3 separate regions of the Homo sapiens genome follow, and all the other regions are linked to region 1. The links come from fine-mapping of genetic effects on gene expression. A gene starts in region 1. Each other region holds a variant in brackets. All regions are shown on one strand. Distances are between the middles of the regions.

Region 1 (6,414 bases):
TTTTTAAATGTATTTATTTATTTACTTATTCATTTGTTTGTCTATTTTTGAGACAGGGTCTCACTCTACTTCCCAGGCTGGAGTGTGGTGGCACCATCATGGCTCACTGCAGCCTCAGACTCCTGGGTTCAGGCAATCCTCCCACCTCAGCCTCCTGAGTCGCTAGGACTACAGGTGTGTACCATCATGCTCAGCTAATTTTTTTTTTTAAGACAGGGTCTGGCTTATGCCTGCAATCCCAGCACTGTCGGAGGCTGAGGCGGGTGAATCACCTGAGGCCAGGAGTTTGAGACCAGCCTGGCCAACATGGCAAAACCCTGTCTCTACAAAAAAAATACAAAAATTAGCCATGCATGGTGGTGTACACTTGCAATTCTAGCTACTCGGGAGGCTGAGGCAGGAGAATTGCTTAAACCTGGGAGGTGGAGGTTGCAGTGAGCTAAGATCGAGCCACTGCACTCCAGTGTGGGTGACAGAGCGAAACTCCGTCTCAAAAAAAAAAAAAAAAAAAGGCAGGGTCTTGTTCTGTTGTCCAGGCTGTCTTGAACTCCTGGGCTCAAGTGATCCTCCTGTCTCAGTCTTCCAAAGCACTGAGATTACAGGCGTGAGCCACCTCATCCAGCCAAACAGGCTTTAAAAAACAACAACCAAAAAGAGGAATTTATGAGCCTGTGTTACTGAGAAGTCCTTCTGTCAAATGTAAGTTGGGTGCATTTCAGGCACAGCTGGATCCAGGAGTTCGGATGATGTCATAAGAACTGATCCTCCACAGGGTGGCAACATGGCTGCCAGCAGCCCCAAACCTTTGACGTCCATACAGCCAACGGACCCACAGAAAGACCGTTCTCTCTCAGGACCAAAGTATCAACTCTGCAGGGGCTCCAAAAAGCCCTCTGTAGGACACAAAGGCTGAGATACAGTGATTGGCCAGCCTGGTCAATGCTCACCCTGGCCACCAGGGCCAGTACATAAATGTTTGTTCCCCAAATCCTAGGGCATAGGAAAGAGGACATCAACCCACTCCACCTCCTACAACACGAGTGAGGGGAAGCCAGTGAGGGCATCCTCAAGCCAGGCAGGAGACGTCTGGACAGAGGTTTGAGGCTTTGCCTGAGGTGTGTGTGGAGGCTCTGTGGAGACAGCCTTGGATGGGGCCTGAGGGTGACCTGGCACTGCCATTCCCCAGCTGGGTGACCTTGGGTTAGGGCCCTCTCCTGTCTCAAAGTGCAGACACGCCACATGCTGGGTCTGAGGAGGTTTCTTTCTTTCTTTTTTTTTTTTTTGAGATGGAGTCTCGCTCTGTCGCCCAGGCTGGATGGAGTGGAGTGCAGTAGTGCAATCTCGGCTCACTGTAAGCTCCGCCTCCCGGGTTCATGCCATTCTCCTGCCTCAGCCTCCCGAGTAGCTGGGACTACAAGCACCCGCCACCATCCTGGCTAATTTTTTTTGTAGTTTTAGTAGAGACGGGGTTTCACCATGTTAACCAGAATGGTCTCGATCTCCTGACCTCGTGAGCCGCCCGCCTCTGCCTCGCAAAGTGCTGGGATTACAGGCGTGAGCCACCGCACCCGGCCTCTGAGGAGGTTTCTAAAGTCTCCCCCAGGCTGGGTGCAGTGGCTCACATGTGTAATCCCAGCACTTTGGGAGGCTGAAGAAGGAGGATCGCTTGAGCCCAGAAGTTTGAGACCTGTCTGGGCAACATAGTGAGACCCCATTTCTATAAAAATTTTTTTTTAATTAGCTGGGCATGGTAGTATGCGCCTGTGATCCCAGCTACTCAGGAGGCTGAGGCAGGAGGATGACTTCAGCTTGGAAGGTCAAGGCTGCAGTGAGATATGATGGTGTTCCTGCATTCCAGACTGGGTGACAGAGTGAGACTTTGCCTCTAAAAAATAAAGCCCAAGAGGCTGGGCACGGTGGCTCACGCCTGTAATCACAGCACTTTGGGAGGCCAAGGCAGGTGGATCACCTGAGGTCAGGAGTTGGAGACCAGCCTGGCCAATATGGTGAAACCCTGTCTCTACTAAAAATACAAAAAGTAGCCGCGCATGGTGGTGGACACCTGTAATCCCAGCTATTCGGGAGGCTGAGGCAGGAGAATCGCTTGAACCCAGGAGTCAGAGGTTGCAGTGAGCCGAGATCACACCACTGCACTCCAGCCTGGGTGACAGAACAAGACTCTGTCTCAAAAATAAAATAAAATAAAATAAATGCCCAAAGATATGAATGGTCTCTGAGGGACCATTCTGCTCCAACATTCTGGACTTCCGTAAGTTTGTGATTCATGCCAGATCCCGAAAGGGAATTTTGGTAGATGGAGAGGGGTAAGAAGAGGGATTAAAGTGTAGGGAGTGAGGAGGGCCCATGGAAGCCAAGTGTACATGTAAGACAGTAAAACAGACCTGTGGAAGCAGGAGGGGCCCATGGAAAAGGATGTGGCCGCATTGGTTAAAAATCCAAGGCACTCAAAAGAAGACTTTAAGGAAGGGCCATTTTTCTTTTACACCCCCTCCCCAATTTTGTTTTTAGTAAAAACAAACAAACAAACAAACAAAAAACAAAAAAACAAGCCAGGCATGATGGTTCATGCCTGTAATCCTAGCACTTTGAGAGGCCAAGCAGGCAGATCACCTGAGGCCAGGAGTTCAAGACCAGCCTGGGTAACATAGTGAAACCCTGTCTCTACTAAAAATACAACAATTAGGCAAGCCAGGCACGGTGGCTCACGCCTGTAATCCCAGCATTTTGGGAGGCCAAGGCAGGCAGATCACCTAAGGTCAGGAGTTCGAGACCAGCCTGACCAACATGGAGAAACCCCGTCTCTACTAAAAATACAAAATTAGCCAGGCTTGGTGGCACATGCCTGTAATCCCAGCTTCTCAGGAGGCTGAGGCAGGAGAATCATTTGAACCCAGTAAGCGGAGGTTGCGGTGAGCTGAGATCACGCCATTGCACTCCAGCCTGGGCAACAAGAGCGAAACTCTGTCTTAAAAAAACAAAAACAAAACAAAACAAAAAAACATAGATGGAAGGGAATTGAGACAAAGACGGAGTCAGAGGGAGGAGGCAGAGATAAGTAGAGGCCTTCAGTGGCCCTGGGCCTTTGAGTGGCTTTGGAGCCATGGACAGAGCAGCAAGGAAATCCCTGTTCTGTCTCCAGTTCTAGGTGCATGGCCACCACTGCCACGCCGGCCACGAACCAGGGCTGGCCAGAGGACTTTGGCTTCCGGCTAGGTGGCTCTGGCCCCTGCTTCGTCCTGGAGGTGGCCAAGGGGAGCAGCGCGCATGCCGGAGGACTGCGGCCAGGAGACCAGATCCTGGAGGTGGAGGGGCTGGCGGTGGGCGGTCTGAGCCGCGAGCGCCTCGTGCGCCTGGCACGGCGCTGCCCACGTGTGCCGCCCAGTCTGGGCGTGCTCCCGGCTCCCGACGGTGGCCCCGGCCCAGGATCCGGCCCCGCGGCCCCGACCACAGTCTTGCGGGCCCCGCGGTGCGGCCGCGGCCTAGCTCTGGGCCGTGAGCTGCTTCGCCTGGCCGGCCGCAAGCGCCCGGACGCGGTGCACCGAGAGCGCAGGCGCAAGGCCCAAGAGTTCAGCCGCAAGGTAAGGCGCGGGGGTGGGAGGTGGGGGCGGGAAGGAGGGGGCTCATAATGTGGGCAGGGAGTGGGCCGGGCGCCGCTCTCCCAGGGCCAGAGGTAAGGAAACTTCTGGGGTCAGATTTAACAGAAATATGGGAATGCTCAACTTCAAAACCTTGCAAACAATTTTGCATTTTTTTTTTTTGAGACAGAGTCTCGCTCTGTCACCCAAGCTGGAGTGCAGTGGCCAGGTCTTGGCTCAGTACAACCTCTGCCTCCCAAGTTCAAGTGATTCTCCTGCCTCAGTCTTCCAGTAATTGAGATTACAGGCGTTTGCCACCACACCCAGCTAATTTTTTTTTTTTTTTTTTTTTTGGTATTTTTAGTAGAGACGGGGTTTCACCATGTTGGTCAGTCTGGTCTCAAACTCCTGACCTCAAGTGATCTGCCCACCTCTGCCTCCCAAAGTGCTGGGATTACAGGCATGAGCCACTGCGCCCGGCCTAATTTTGCAATTTTTATTCACTTGTGTTTCTTTTTTATTAAGGTACTATAGGTGTAAAGTGCATTAAGTGTGCAGCTCAATAAATTTTCCATATACATGCACCCTTGAATAACCACCCTCTTGATCAATATATAAAATAATAGGATATAGATAAAAATATAATGTAGACTATAGAATAATTGACACCAGAATGTTCCCACGTGCCCCTTTCTCTGTCTATCCTCCCCATTAGAACTTAACTGCAGGCCAGGTGCTAGATGTAATCCTAGCATTTTAGGAGACCAAGGTGGGAGGATCACTTGAGACCCTGAGTTCAAGGCCAGCCTGGGCAACGTAATGAGACACCATCTCTACAAAAAAAATCAAAAACTAGCTTGGCATGGTGGTGCATGCCTTATAGTCCCAGATACTCAGGAGACTGAGGCAGGAAGATCGCTTCAGCCTGGGAGTTTGAGGCTGCAGTGAGCCATGACTGCACCACTGCATTCCAGCCTGGGTAACGGAGTGAGACCGCATCTCTAAAATAAAAAGATAAAATAAAAAGAGCCACAGATATCGCTTCTTGGCCCTTCATCTAAGATCAAGTGTAAAAGAGCCAGTGGGGTGAGGTGGCTCACGCCTGTAATCCCAGCACTTTGGGAGGCTGAGGAGGGCTGATGACTTGAACTCAGGAGTTTGAGACCAGCCTGGGCAATGTGGTGAAATCCCATCACTATCAAAAATATAAAAAAAAAAAAAACCAGCCAGGTGTGGTGGCGCGCGCCTGTGGTGCCAGATACTCAAGGGTGTTGAGGTGGGAGGATTACTTGAGCTTGGGAGACGGAGGTTGCAGTGAGCTGAGATCATGCTACTGCACTGCAGCCTGAGTGACAGAGTGAGACTCCATTCCCCTCCCCGCCATTCCCCACCTCCAAAAAAATGTAAAAGAATTCCGCCTGTTCTAAGCCCCCACAAAACCAGGATTAGACCTGCCCTTGCACAGCGGCCTGGCTGGCTTGTTGGCTGCAGGAGGCCCTAGTTTGGCTTCACCAATCTGCCAAAGGCATTTCCTCTTGACTTTGGCACAAACCAGGCTGTGATAGACTGCAGGTGGAATATTAGCGTGGTCCTGAAGATTAAGAATGAGGAGCCTGGAATGGATCAGACCTCTAGCCACAAGAAGAACCCAAGGCCTGAGTCACCTGCAGGAAGTAGGGTGTGGCCACAAGCCAAGATGGAGGCACCATTTAGAGACCCAGGGCTGGGATGGAAAGAGGGAGGATAGAGTCGGTCTCAGGCCTGAATCCCAAGCAACCCCTGATTTGCAGGAACCTGCCATTTACTGGACAGATCCAGGCAATTCCAAGAAACCTGGGACGTGACATGGTTATAAAAGAAGAAGCTGCCTAGTATGGTTACAGCTACCCCAGGCCACTGACTAGGTCCCAGTACAGCAACCTCCCATGCCATTCACCTTCACTCCTGTCCTCCAGGGCTTTCAGATGGGGTCCTAAGGCCTTTATTTCACTAATACTTGAATGGAACAAAAAGTGATCCTGTGTGCGACTAGGAAATAGTCCGGAGCCAAGACACTCAGTCCCTACCCCTGCCTGGCTATCGGACCCCTGTGGACATGAAGCCTGGAAACTCAGTATTTGCTTGGCGGCTGGGACACTTAAGCTCATAGACTTTTTTTTTTTTTTTTTTGAGGCAGAGTCTCGCTCTGTCACCCAGGCTGGAGTGCAGTGGTGTGATCTCGGCTCACTGCAACCTCCACCTCCTGGGTTCAAGTGATTCTCCTGCCTCAGCCTCCCGCGTAGCTGGGATTACAGGCGTACCCCACCATGGCCAGCTATTTTTTTTTTCTGTATTCTTAGTAGAGATGGGGTTTCACCATATTGGTCAGGCTGGTCTTGAACTCCTGACCTCGTGATCCATCTGCTGCGGCCTCCCAGAGTGCTGGGATTACAGGCGTGAGCCACCGCATCTGGCCAACTTTTTTTACATTATTTTGATTTTTAATTTTTGTGGGTACCTAATACGTGTATATATTTATGGGGTATCTGAGATACTCTAATACAGGCATGCAATGTGAAATAAGCATGTCATGGAGAATGGGGTACCCATCCCCTCAAGCATTTATCTTTTGAGTTATAAACAATCCATCTACACCGTTTAAGTTTGTATTTATTTTTTTTGGAGCCAGAGTCTCGCTCTGTTGCCCAGGGAATACAGTGGTACGATCTCGGCTCACTGCAACCTCCGCCTCCCGGGTTTAAGCAATTCTCCTGGCTCAGCCTCCCAAGGAGCTGGGATTACAGGCCCCCACCACCATGCCTGGCTAATTTTTGTATTT
Region 2 (5,701 bases), 56 kb after region 1:
ACGGCCCAGCCAGCACTTCGGGCGCTCGACGGGCTGCAGCGCGAGGCCATGGAGGAGCTGGGCAAGGCGCTGGCCTTCTTTGGGGAGGATTCCAAGGCCACCACCTCTGAGGCTTTCTTCGGCATCTTTGCAGAGTTCATGAGCAAATTCGAGGTGAGCCTCGCTGGAGCCCTGAGGGGCCCTTTTGGAGAGGTGGGGGCCAGAGGCCAAATGAAGGGATCCTCCATGAAGCCAGGGCTGGGAAAGGGGCTCCAGTGAGCGACATGTCCCCCTAACCCCCTGATGGGCTGTCTAGTGTGGGAAGAGACAGGGAAGGCGTCACAGGTTCCTGGGACCACTGACCACCCTACCTCTGTGTTCCCCCTCCCCAGCGAGCGCTGAGTGACCTGCAGGCCGGGGAGGGCCTGCGCAGCTCCGGGATGGTTTCACCCCTGGCCTGGTGACAGTGGCCACACCGCGTCCTCTGCGGCCTGAGCAGGGAGATGGAGGCCGAGAGGGCAGCCCAGACACTGCCGAGGTCCGGGGCCACTGTGCCCCGGGCTCTGAGCACACCGCCAGCCTCTCCTGCAGCTACCTCAGCCGCCGAGCTGTGGTCGGGCCCTCCTCTGCCAGCCCTTGTTCCTACCCCCAGGCCCAGAGCCAGATGCTGTAGGAGCAGGTGCTGAGTGTGCCTGCACATGGAGGACCGTGCTCTGTCGGCTTCTTGGGCCCACTTCCCACTTCGCTCCCAGGCTGTCAGGGGGGCCTGGAGGGTGGATTACAAAGTGGCCACATTCCTGGGACATGTGGACCTTTTTTCTGATCCTGCTCCTAGTGGGTCCCTGTGAGGGGGCCGACACCCTTGAGCACGACCCTGCAGGCAGGCGCGAGACGCGAGAGGGCAGAAAGCCGGATGTAGAGGGGCCCTGGGGATGTGCACGCCCAGCCTGGGCCTTGGAAGCTGGCTTCAGGGACACAGGAAGAGAGAAGCCTGGGAGAGACGCAGGGAAGGAAGGACTGGAGAAGGAAGACCCCCTATGTCAGACTGCGGAATTGAGGTTTCATGCAGTGGACAAACCCAAACCTGTGTAGAGGTGGCCCAATTGGAAGTGGGGAGCCTGGGAGTGGAATAGGTGTGGTCAAGGTAGAGCAGACAGAATGGGGAGGTGTTGAGGCAGGAGGTGAGCAGGATCTGGTGGCCAACTGCCAGACTTCTCACCTGGACGGATGGTGATGTTCCCTGGAGCAAGTCATGAGACCGGGGCAGGTGTGGGGGCAGATGACACAATCTGGGATGTGTTTGGGACCCAAATGGTCATTTTACATGTGCCTAGGCATATAGCAGGAGTTACCTGGATACCAGGAGCAGGAGCAGGTGGCGTGGTGGGCAGGGAGGGAGGGTGTGTGAACTGTTTCACCTTTTTTAAAATTCTCTGATTGACAGATCCTTGGATCAGACAGCTTCCCTCGTTGCACTTTTTTTTTTTTTTTTTTTTGGAAAAGTCTGAAATGGGCTTTAATCCTGTCTCATGGATTCTTTTTCTCCCACTGCAATCAAATGGCTTACATTGCACCTGGGCAGTACTGGGAACCTGTTCAGTTCTTCCCAGTCTCCCCTAGGCCCCTCTTGGAAGCCACCTTTGTTTTTTTGTTCCTTGCACACAAGCACCATACAAAAACATCAAAACCAAAATATATACTGCAAGGGGGATGTGGCTAGTGGGGTACATTTCACCCTAGCAGCTCAAGCAGAATTGTTTCCAAAAGTTCCCAGTGCCTGTGTCTCTGGGAAACATGTCAGGAGGTCAGTTAAAACCTCTGCAGGCAGGGCGTGGGGGCTCACGCCTGTAATTCCAACACTTCGGGAGGCTGAGGCAGGTGGATCACCTGAGGCCAGAAGTTCAAGACCAGCCTGGCCAACATAGTGAAGCCATATCTCTACTAAAAATACACAAAATTAGCCGGGCGTGGTGGCACGCGCTTGTATTCACAGCTACTTGGGAGGCTGAGGCAGAAGAATTGCTTGAACCTGGGGGTCGGAGGTTGCAGTGAGCCAAGATCCTGCCACTGCACTCCAGCCTGAGCGACAGAGTGAGACTCCATTTGAAAAAAAAAAAAAAAACCCTGCATAAGATCTGTAGAGATAATAGACTCCAACAGGCGTGATTTCCAGGCCTGGTTAGCCCACATGGCATTTTCCTGCAAGTTAGAAACACATGTCCCTTCCAGGAGACCTAACCTCTTGATTGCACAGTGTGGCAGGCCAAGCACCAGCTAGGTTTTCTCCCTAGCATGCCTTTTATTGGTTGTTTGCTACAACAACGCTGCATAACAAACTGTCCCAAAACTCA[C/T]TGGCTTCAAACAGCAATCACTTACTGCTCACAAGTCTCTGGGTCCCAGTTCTGATCTGAGCTAGGCTCTGCATCTTCAGTCAGCTATGAGTCAGCTAGGCAGCTTTGGTAATCATACCAAGCAATCTCATGTCTGGGGCCTTTGGCTGGAAAAGCTGGGATAGCCCTGTGGGGTCTCTCATTTTGCACCCAAATAGCCAGGATTTTTTTCATGAGGGGACTGGGGGTCAAAGAAGGTGAACAACCAAAGGCACAGAAGATGGCTTGAGGCTGAGGCTCAGAGCTGGTACACCGTGCCTTCTGCCACAATCTGCTGTCCATCCAAATGACAAGGCCAGCCCTGATTCTAGGGGAAGGGAAACAGGCTCTGCTAGGAGATATCGCAAAGCCACTCCACACAGGGTGAGGATTCAGGGACAGATGGAGAATCAGGAGCATTTTTGCAATTAATCTACTGGATGACCTCTTGGCCAGGGGTGCAGATCCCAGCCTCCTTAAAATCCCCAATGGCACTGGTGCTGCCTGGACCCAGCACAGATCTGGTTCCCCATCCCCATGTACTCACCAGGTGGCATGCTTCTGTGTCTTACCTGGTCACCCATGAATTACCTGACTTCTATCCAGATACTTAGTCCAGTCTGGGCACAGTGGCTCATGCCTGTAATCCCAGCACTTTGGGAGGCCGAGGTAGGTGGATTACTTGAGGTCAGGAGTTTGAGACCAGCCTGGCCAACATGGTGAAACCCTGTCTCTACTAAAAATACAAAAATTAGCCAAGTGTGGTGGCAGGCGCCTGTAATCCCAGCTACTCGGGAGGCTGAGGCACAAGAATCTATTGAACCTGGGAGGCAGAGGTTGCAGTGTGCCAAGATTGCGCCTCTGAACTCCAGCCCTGGTGACAGAGGGAGACTCTGTCTCAAAAAATAATAATAATAATACATAAATAAATGAAATAGATACTTAGTCCGGTGGGCAGTGTGGTCTGCCTGCCTGGCAACCAGTCTCGCCCTTCTGCTGGGAAAGGATTCCTGTTTCTCGTTTCAGAAATTATCTCTCCCCTACTCCCAGGGCCTGGAGCTGGAGTGATTGGATAAAGATGATCTTGTGACTCTGGCTGTGTGGCTCAGAGTCAGTCCAAGCCTCCGGCTGGCACTGTTTGAAAAAGAGATTCCCTTTGCTCTGGAATTTCTGGGTGTATAGAAGGTAGGAGTCAGGAGGGGCTGCCAAGACCACCATATGAAGGGCACCTGCCTGGATATAAAGCTAGCACAGGAGAAAAAACGGGGAGAAGATCACCATATACATCCCACTGTCCCTGGATCCAGCCATACCTGAAGCACACACTGGCCTTGTCAGTCTTCAAGACAACAGATTCTCCTTACATTTAAAAGAATTTTAAATGTATTTAAATTCCCTGGCTTAGGCTGGTTTGAATGGTTGCTATTACTTACAACCCTGAAAGGGTTAACTAACAGACCCATTAACAGATGCTGATAGATGTTCAGTACTCAGTGAGTGCTCTTCCTTCCTGCACTCATTGGCCAATGCCTTTTTTTTTTTTTTTTTTGAGACAGAGTCTCACTCTGTCGCCCAGGCTGGAGTGCAGTGGCACAATCTCTCAGCTCACTGCAAGCTCTGCCTCCCGGGTTCATGCCATTCTCCTGCCTCAGCCTCCCGAGTAGCTAGGACTACAGGCACCCGCCACCACGTCCAACTAATTTTTTGTATTTTTTAGTAGAGACAGGGTTTCACTGTGTTAGCCAGGATGGTCTCAATCTTCTGACCTCGTGATCCACCCTCCTCGGCCTTCCAGAGTGCTGGGATTACAGGTGTGAGCCACTGCGCCTGGCCTGCTTTTTATATTTTATATATTTTTATTATCATTATTATTTTGAGACAGGGTCTTGTTCTGTCGCCCAGGCTGGAGTACAGTGGGATAATCTCGGCTCACCGCAACCTCTGCCTCTCGGGTTCAAGCGATTCTCCTGCCTCAGCCTCCTGAGTAGCTGGGACTACAGGCATGTGCCACCACGCCCGGCTAATTTTTGTATTTTTAGTAGAGATGGGGTTTCAACATGTTGGCCAGGCTGGTCTCAAACTGCTGACCTCGTGATCCGCCTGCCTCAGCCTCCCAAAGTGCTGGGATTGCAGACGTGAGCCACTGCGCCAGGCCGGCCAGTGCTTTTTAATTGCCTACTGTGTGCCAGGTGCGTTGCTAGGTACCAGCATCTTAGAAGGCAGCCTCTCTGAGTCTGGTTACCTGGGGTTATGTTTTATGGTGGTTCTACCCCAGAGTCAGTGCAAAGCCCTGTATGTGACTCAATATCTGTACCATATCCACCCAGACCCCCTAGTTCCTCACCAAATGACAAGGTGTGAATGCAGGCACTTATGCCTCAGGAATTCATTTATCTCCAATAATACTAACAAAATAACGTAGCCTCACGATACACCACCTTTCCAGATAGTAATATCCGTGAGTGGTTCGTTAGTGTGCTCAGTGTTTTTACGGATTTCATTTCATTTTACTTTCACAAAAACCCAAGGTGGATTTCATTACCTCTTTTTTGCAAGTAAAACTCTGAAACTTAGGAAGGTTATGTGACTTGCTGGATCTAAAACCCAAGTCTGTCTAAATCCAAAAGCCCCATCCTCTGAGTGAAAATAGCTGCCATACACACACACACACACACACACACACACACACACACACACACACACACACACACACACACACACACGTATCAGCACTCTAAGGGCCACAGATGCTGGGGGTTTCAACATAAAACCCTTACTTCTTTTCTCTCTTCCTGTTCCGTCTATTCGTTTGCTAGGGCTGCTATGATAAAAATACCATAGATTGGGCAGCTTAAACGAAAAAATGTGTTTTCCCACAGTTTTGGGGGCTGGAAGTCCAAGATCAAAGTGTCAGCAGGTTGGGTCTCTCCTGAGGCTGTTCTCCTTGGCTTGCAGACAAGCTTTCTCCCTGTGTCCTCACTCGGTCTTTTCTCCCCGGCATTTCTTCCTTCTCCTTCTCTGTCTCCGTCTCCCTCTCCATCTCCGTCTCTGTCTCCTCCTCCTCCTCCTTCCTCCCTCCTCCTCCTTCCTCCTCTATCCTCCTTCTTTCTTTCTTCTTCTTCTTCTTTTTTTTTTAAGATGGAGTCTTGCTCTGTCACCCAGGCTGGAGTGCAGTGGCGCGATCTCAGCTTACTGCAACCTCCACCTCCTGGGTTCAAGTGATTCTCCTGCCTCAGCCTCCCAAGTAGCTGGGATTACAGGCACACACTGCCAAACCTGGCTAATTTTTGTATTTTTAGTACAGACAGGGTTTCACTATGTTGGCCAGGCTGGTGTCAAACGCCTGACCTCAG
Region 3 (6,414 bases), 730 kb before region 1:
TGTCAGCCACATCTCTCATTCTTCCCTGAAAACACTCTGCTATAGTCTGAATGTTTCTGTCCTCCCCAAATTTATATGGTAAAATCCTAATGTCCAAGGTGATGGTATTAGGAGGTGAGGCCTTTAGAAGGTATTAGATAATGAAGGCTCCACCCTCATGACAGGTATTAGTATGCTTATAAGAGATACACCAGAGAGCTAGCTAGCCCCTTTTACCATCTAAGGATACAGCAAGAAAGGTGTCAGTTAGGAGCGAGGAAATGGGCTCTTACCAGACACTGTATCTGCTGGTGCCTTGATCTTGGACCAGCATCTAGAACAGTGAGAAATAAATTGCTATTGTTTATAAGCCACGTGGTTTATATTTTGTTATAGAAACTTGAAAAAACTAAGACACTTCAAGATTATCTGCCTCATATTTTCATAGGCAGTGTTCCCTTTTCTTGGAAACTCCTTAGTCTCAGCCCTTTAAATCTTGCCTACCTTCTAGTATCATCACAAATGTAAGACCAAACTTTTCCACCCAGATGAAATGTTTATTCACTTACTTTTTCTGCCACAGATTATCATAATTTACACATACATTTTATTCCTTTTTGTTACCTTCTCAAGAGAAAGTATTGAGGCTTATTTTTGTTTTTCTTCTCAGGCCTAACATATTGCCTTGTATGTACTGATTACTCAATAAACATTTGTTGTTTTAAGTGGATTGTGTTGAATTCACTGCAAAGGAAGAGAAACTATCTATTGAAAAGCAATTGATAGTAAGTAAAACATCTGCCAAACCAATATGTTTTCTACATACAGGAAAACCAGAGAGCTGTCTTAGTTACTCTATAGCCTAAACAACAGTTAATTATATGGAAATTGTTCACAATATGTGGTAATTAGAGTTCTCATCTTTAAGTTGATGATTATATTTTATTTAGCTATTATTTAAGACTATGCAAAACTCTCCCTCTCCATTTTGTTTATTGTCTACTAAGCTAGAATATTGTCATTTATTAGAAAACTGTCATTTATATAAGGCACTGAGGATTGTTGAAAGGGATGGAAAGAAATGGGACCTGCTTTGAAAAAAAATTTATAAAGTGATCAAATCTCCCTGAGTCTCATTCTACATAAAAAGAGAATTTCAGCTGTTCTAGAAAAAAAAATAGTGAAGTAGCACTACAGCGCTAGCATAAGAGCCAAAGAGGAAAGAAACATGAAAAGCAGCTCAACCGTCAAAGACAGGTTTATTTTGGAGAATAAACCTGAGAGGGGCTTCTGGCTGATTTTTGGTTAGGAGCCTTCTGTCTTACAGAATAAGTATTTAAGGGTTCAGGGTGAGAGAACTTACCACAGGCTTGGAATGTTTCTGGTGGGGGAGAAATTTATTGCAGGGTTGGAATGTCTCTGGCTGGAGGGGAGGTTATCTTGGGGCTGACATCTCTCTGGCTGGAGGGGAGGTTATCTTGGGGCTGGCAAGTCTCTGGTTGGGGAGGGGTTTATCTTATGGTTGGAATGTTTCTGGTAAGAGATGTCATTTGTGGCTTATGGTCATTCTGACCTTAGTCATTAGGCTGATGCCCTTGGATTTACGAGGTTTTTGATGAAGGTGAACATTAAAATGGCAGTGCTTGTCCAAGATGGCGATGTTCCTGCTCTGTCAACTAGACTTTCTCCTTCTGAGTTCTATCTTTTGCCCTCTGCTTGTTTCTGTCTTCTGTGAGGCTGCAAAAAGCACCAATCTGCCTGCCGTGTAGGCATCCCAGAGCTGAGGATGACCTAAGTTCCTTCCCCAGTCAAATAATATGACAAATTACCTTATACCAAAGAACTATTTACTAATAGTCTCTAAATTATTACTTTTCGTAGGTATTTTCACTGTACTTATTTTGACAACAGAAATGAAACCCTTGTGGATCTCTGACCTACCCTGAGTCACATCCTTTGAACTCTCCTATTGTATTGCAGGGAAGAACACGGTTTCTTTTCTTTTACCCTTCAAGGTTCTGTTGCTGGGGCCCTGTAAACTAAATTGACAAAAGATCATGCCTCAGCCTCCTGAGTAGCTGGGATTATAGGCGTGTGCCACCATGCCTGGCAAATTTTTGTATTTTTAGTAGAGACAAGGTTTTACCATGTTGCCCAGGCTAGTCTCGAACTCCTGGACTCAAGTGTTCTGTTCCCCTTGGCCTCCCAAAGTGCTTGGATTAAAGGTGTGAGCCACTGTGGCTGGTCCAATTTGCTTGTCTTATAAGCAAAATGGTTACATCAAGCCTGCATGATATTCCCAAAGGCAAAAGTATGGACACCAAGGGTTAAAACATGAAAGAATTTTGTAAAGTCAAGGTATAACTATTGCAATAAAGATCATCATAAAATATAGAACTATAATACAATACCAGGAAAATTTTAGCTCATTTTCCTTTTAGCATTAAGCATATTTTTAACCTTTTCCAAACATATCTGTCATGTTCCTATTTTTGAAGAACTCAGAGGGGCAGATGTGTAATTACAGTGATATTCTGAGTAGTCCTTCATGCATAAATAACAGTTTCAACAACCAGAATCTTATAATCAAGGACAAGTCCTTAGCCACAACTTGTGGAAAAGTGGGATTGGGACCAAGTAAAACACCAAAGGATCAGATCTTCATTGAAAAAGTGAAAAAGCAACACCCACATGTATCTTTATTTCTATTGGTACATTCATTTATGAATTTTCCATTCACATATTGTCCTGAACACTCCCAACACAAAGTTGACATAGGTAGAGGAGAGAAAGTCACATGGGAGAGAGCCGTCTTACAAATTAAGACATATCTAGTCATTGGGAAGGAAGTCCCTCCTCCACTCCATTCCCACCACCATCCCAAGCCTCACCACGGAGTAACCTAGTATCTCTACTCTCTCTTTAAAAAACAACAACAACAGTAACAACAAAAAGGTTCTCACTATGTTG[C/T]CCAGGCTGGTCTTGAACTCCTGGCCTCAAATAATTCTGCTTCAGCCTCTCAAAGTGCTGGGATTACAGGCATGAGCTACCATGCCTGGCGTCTGCCACTTTCTTTACTGTTAATAGGATCCATGAATACTATAGTGAAAAGCACAAGAAAGACACCAAACTGGTTAAAAATAAGAGGCACAAAATTACCTAACTGAATAAAATTCAGTGCTCTATCATAATAGATTCTGTGTGTCTTAAAAATGAAATCATAGATTTCCAAATATTCAAAGGAACTTACAAATTCTATTAAACTTACAGATATGTTTATTGGACTATTTCCCCTTGTTAGACTGAGAGAAATAGGAATCATTTATCTAAATTCTTCACATCACATTGATTAATGAATGCTTTCATTTATCTAACCAGTATCTATCCAGTGAGGCTGTGAGCAAGTCACCATGTTAGGCTCAGGATGGGGGTTGGGGAGAGAATTGCTCAGAAACTTTATAATCTGATGGATGCTAGTGATTTCTTAGGATCTTGATTATGATGTTATCAAAATCGATCTACATTTTTAAAGAATTCCATATCATCTAAGGGACCTCAGGAACCAAAGGCGTGCATACTATGGATCCTCCATATTTTCTAATTCTTTTATTCCTTTGAAAAAAGCTGTCTATAGAGAAAGATCTTATTTATTACTGGTTAATTTCAAAAAGGTTTTGAGGTAGCAGAAAACGGTCTCCAGCTATAAGTTGAAAAAAGGAGAACAGCACAAGTGCAGTAAAAAAAAAAAAAAAAAAAAAAATCCTACATAACCAGACAATGTACCAAGGCTACATCTGTCCCTGGAAAAAACTCAGTATTCCTATAGGAAATCACTCTGCCATTCAAAAGCTTTGCTAAATATAGTCAGGCAGCAGAGCCTAGGCATTAAATCAGTAGGGCTGGTTTGTTGATTATGAATGGACTAAATTCAGGAAGACATAGTGTCCTCTAGGAAGGCCCCATCTACCCCTTGCCTATGTATCACCCTACTTTTTATCTAGGCTTTATCTGTATTGGGGAAAATTGTTCCCAGTTACCACTTCCCTGGTACCTTAGTGGTGCTGAGAAAAGCTCCCTGCATGGAGGAGCAAGGCAACACCCTACCATGTGATGCAGCATCAGTGGAGTGGGGTAGGTGGGGAGAACCACTTTGAGGGCTGTTTTTGGGACTCATCATGGACAAAACAGATCCTTTGTAGGTCAAGGAAAATAAATGTGTTGGGGATGGGAAAAGATAGACACATGAAGAAATATTAGAAGGATTCTCTGCTTTTATTTGAATGCATGTTTTCTTATTGCTTCTACATCCAGAATGAGTTTTTGTAGGCTAGCTGGCTCTTCAGTTCTCCAGTAATGAAAGTGAGATGGAATACTAGCCAGTTCAATTAATCATTGATTTTAATGAATGTTCATTGTGCACCTTTTATGTGCCAGGCTCTTCCAGGAGCTGGGAAACAGCGGTGAACAAGACGAGAAGCTCCTCTTCTGGGGTAGGGTGGGAGGATAAACATTCCAATAGGCAGCATCCTGATCATCTCGATATGCCCTTGACCGATATATTCAATATTTTATTTGTTGGTGTATTCTTGGCCTCCCATCCATATACTCTACTTATATAGGACATGACAATAGGCCACTTATTCTCAACTCCCTGGACACTTAGTCTCAGCCATGTTGTACTTGCTCTTCTTAGTCATCCTCATGGTCTTGCTTTCTGTCTCATTCACTCCTATGCATTGTCTGCAACAGAAGCACAATGAGTAGTTTTTAGGATTTAACCAAGATCTGAGGCCTGAGGTTCTACCCCTGGCCTTTTCATTCTCATAGACTTTCTGGCTCAACCATACCCCTTGCTTTGCCCAAGCCTTGCTATAAGCCCTCAGCTCTTACATGTGCCTCTCCCAGTGTTGACTTGTATATACACTGTCCTGCACCTGCTCTTACAACTGACCAATAGGTGACTTGCAGCACATGTACCAGTGCTGAGAAATGTCAATATCTGTCTTCCTCTTTGCCTGCAAGCCTCAGTAGGAGTGATGCCCATCTACCATGCTCCAAAACATCTCAGCCCTATTGAAATTATTATCATGTGAACAACTACCCTCTTTAAAAACCAGAATAAGTTATTAGAGACTTGGATTTAAATACCTTAGGAATGGTGAAGGTAGAAGACAAAGCCCCTAACCCCTATACATGGGCATGTACTTGCTGGAACAAGCTTGAGATTGTACCTTGAGCTGGAACATTTGTGAAGCACTGCCCTGTCACACCTCTAATTTATTACCACCTGCAGATATTGTTTAGGCATCATATATTACTCTAAGAATCACTACTACTTGCATATAAGGTCATTTTTACCCTAACGTAAAAGTAAATAGTTGACAATGATCGATGAGCAGTCCTGGGTAGTGTTCTCTAAGAGAAAAGACCAGAGTGGCAAAGATTTCCTGCCTAGCAACCCCTCCCTTTTATGAACAGGTACTGTGACTTGTCTTGGATTTCACTTCCTACTCCATTCCTTCTATTCCCCACTCCTAAATGGTAATTTAGGACATTTACCAGTCTGCAAGAGAGTTTGAGGGGGAAACACTGTCCTAAAGGGCTATAAATGAAATCAAAGGCATGGTCTCTGGGGAGTCTCTCTATGTCAAAGAGAGTCAGATCCTCCAGGTACTTAGATCTACTGGGAAGATCGGACAGATTCATGAAGTAGACAAAAAGTCATGTAAAGCCACGTAACAAACAAATGCAAATTGAAACTAAATGCCCAGTATGACTATAAATTCTAGAGAGACTTGAAATAGAGATGTAATACATAGATGACAGTAAAAGAAGGCTTGCTGGAAACAGAATCCTCTCAAGATTGTGGGTATGGTGCCTCTTGGCAATCTGCACCAGCACAGCTGCCAGAAAACAGGAAATCTGGCCAGAGATGCTAAGAAAAAAAATCCAATGTCTGTGACAAGCTGTCAGACAGTCATTAGCATTCCCCTGACCACAGAGGAGCTCAAATTTGAAGGTCTCGCCTGATCAAACACACTTTCTGAGTAATGAAGTATTGAGCCAATCCTTGGAATAAAAAGCCTGTAAGTCTCCTTGGAAATATACTGCCATTTGGAACACGTTCATCTCCTGCTTGTGGGCATATCCCCTCTGGGTCCGTTTGCTTTCTAAATTTCAACTATTAAAATGGAAATAAATGATTTGCTATATCTAAGGTGGGACTAACATCTGATCCATGTTCGGTCTTCCAAACAGGGTACTAAAGGTGTTGGTAGTTCTGATGTAATAAATAGTACTTAAGTTGACCTAATACATTTCTGAATAAGAAACTATTGCAATTGTAAAACAGGTAGTTTAAATAGGATTGATCACTTTTTCCTTTTGATAAATTTACCTACTTGTGTATTATGCGTGTTTTAAATGCATTTGCTT

Direction of the effects. Alleles are on the strand shown, and positions count from the first base shown. SD is a standard deviation of normalised expression in the study named.
For the expression in transverse colon of the gene that starts at base 3,146 in region 1, allele C in region 2 goes with a higher level than allele T (small effect, 0.33 SD a copy in GTEx).
With allele T in place of C in region 3, the expression in stomach of the gene that starts at base 3,146 in region 1 is lower (small effect, 0.31 SD a copy in GTEx).

What was found. PIP is the estimated chance that this variant, and not a neighbour inherited with it, causes the effect.
Region 2: its variant is the best candidate, but not a certain one, in a credible set for the expression of GRID2IP in transverse colon (GTEx, PIP 0.69).
Region 3: its variant is the best candidate, but not a certain one, in a credible set for the expression of GRID2IP in stomach (GTEx, PIP 0.63).

What each region holds. Positions count from the first base shown.
Region 1 is chr7:6,548,193-6,554,606 of GRCh38, reverse strand. GRID2IP (Grid2 interacting protein) reads left to right here and starts at 3,146. Exons shown (of 22, transcript NM_001145118.2): 1 at 3,146-3,599. The coding sequence starts at 3,171.
Region 2 is chr7:6,492,516-6,498,216 of GRCh38, reverse strand. It overlaps GRID2IP (Grid2 interacting protein), which reads left to right. Exons shown (of 22, transcript NM_001145118.2): 21 at 1-153; 22 at 372-1,439. The coding sequence ends at 443. Among named protein-coding and RNA genes, the nearest start is that of KDELR2, 11 kb to the right of the region's middle. The variant C/T (reference allele first, on the strand shown) is at 2,331.
Region 3 is chr7:7,275,890-7,282,303 of GRCh38, reverse strand. LINC03016 (long intergenic non-protein coding RNA 3016) reads right to left here. Exons shown (of 4, transcript NR_108073.1): 4 at 4,235-4,719. All of the region lies in intron 1 of LOC107986764 (a long non-coding RNA gene), which reads right to left. Among named protein-coding and RNA genes, the nearest start is that of LINC03016, 24 kb to the right of the region's middle. The variant C/T (reference allele first, on the strand shown) is at 2,950.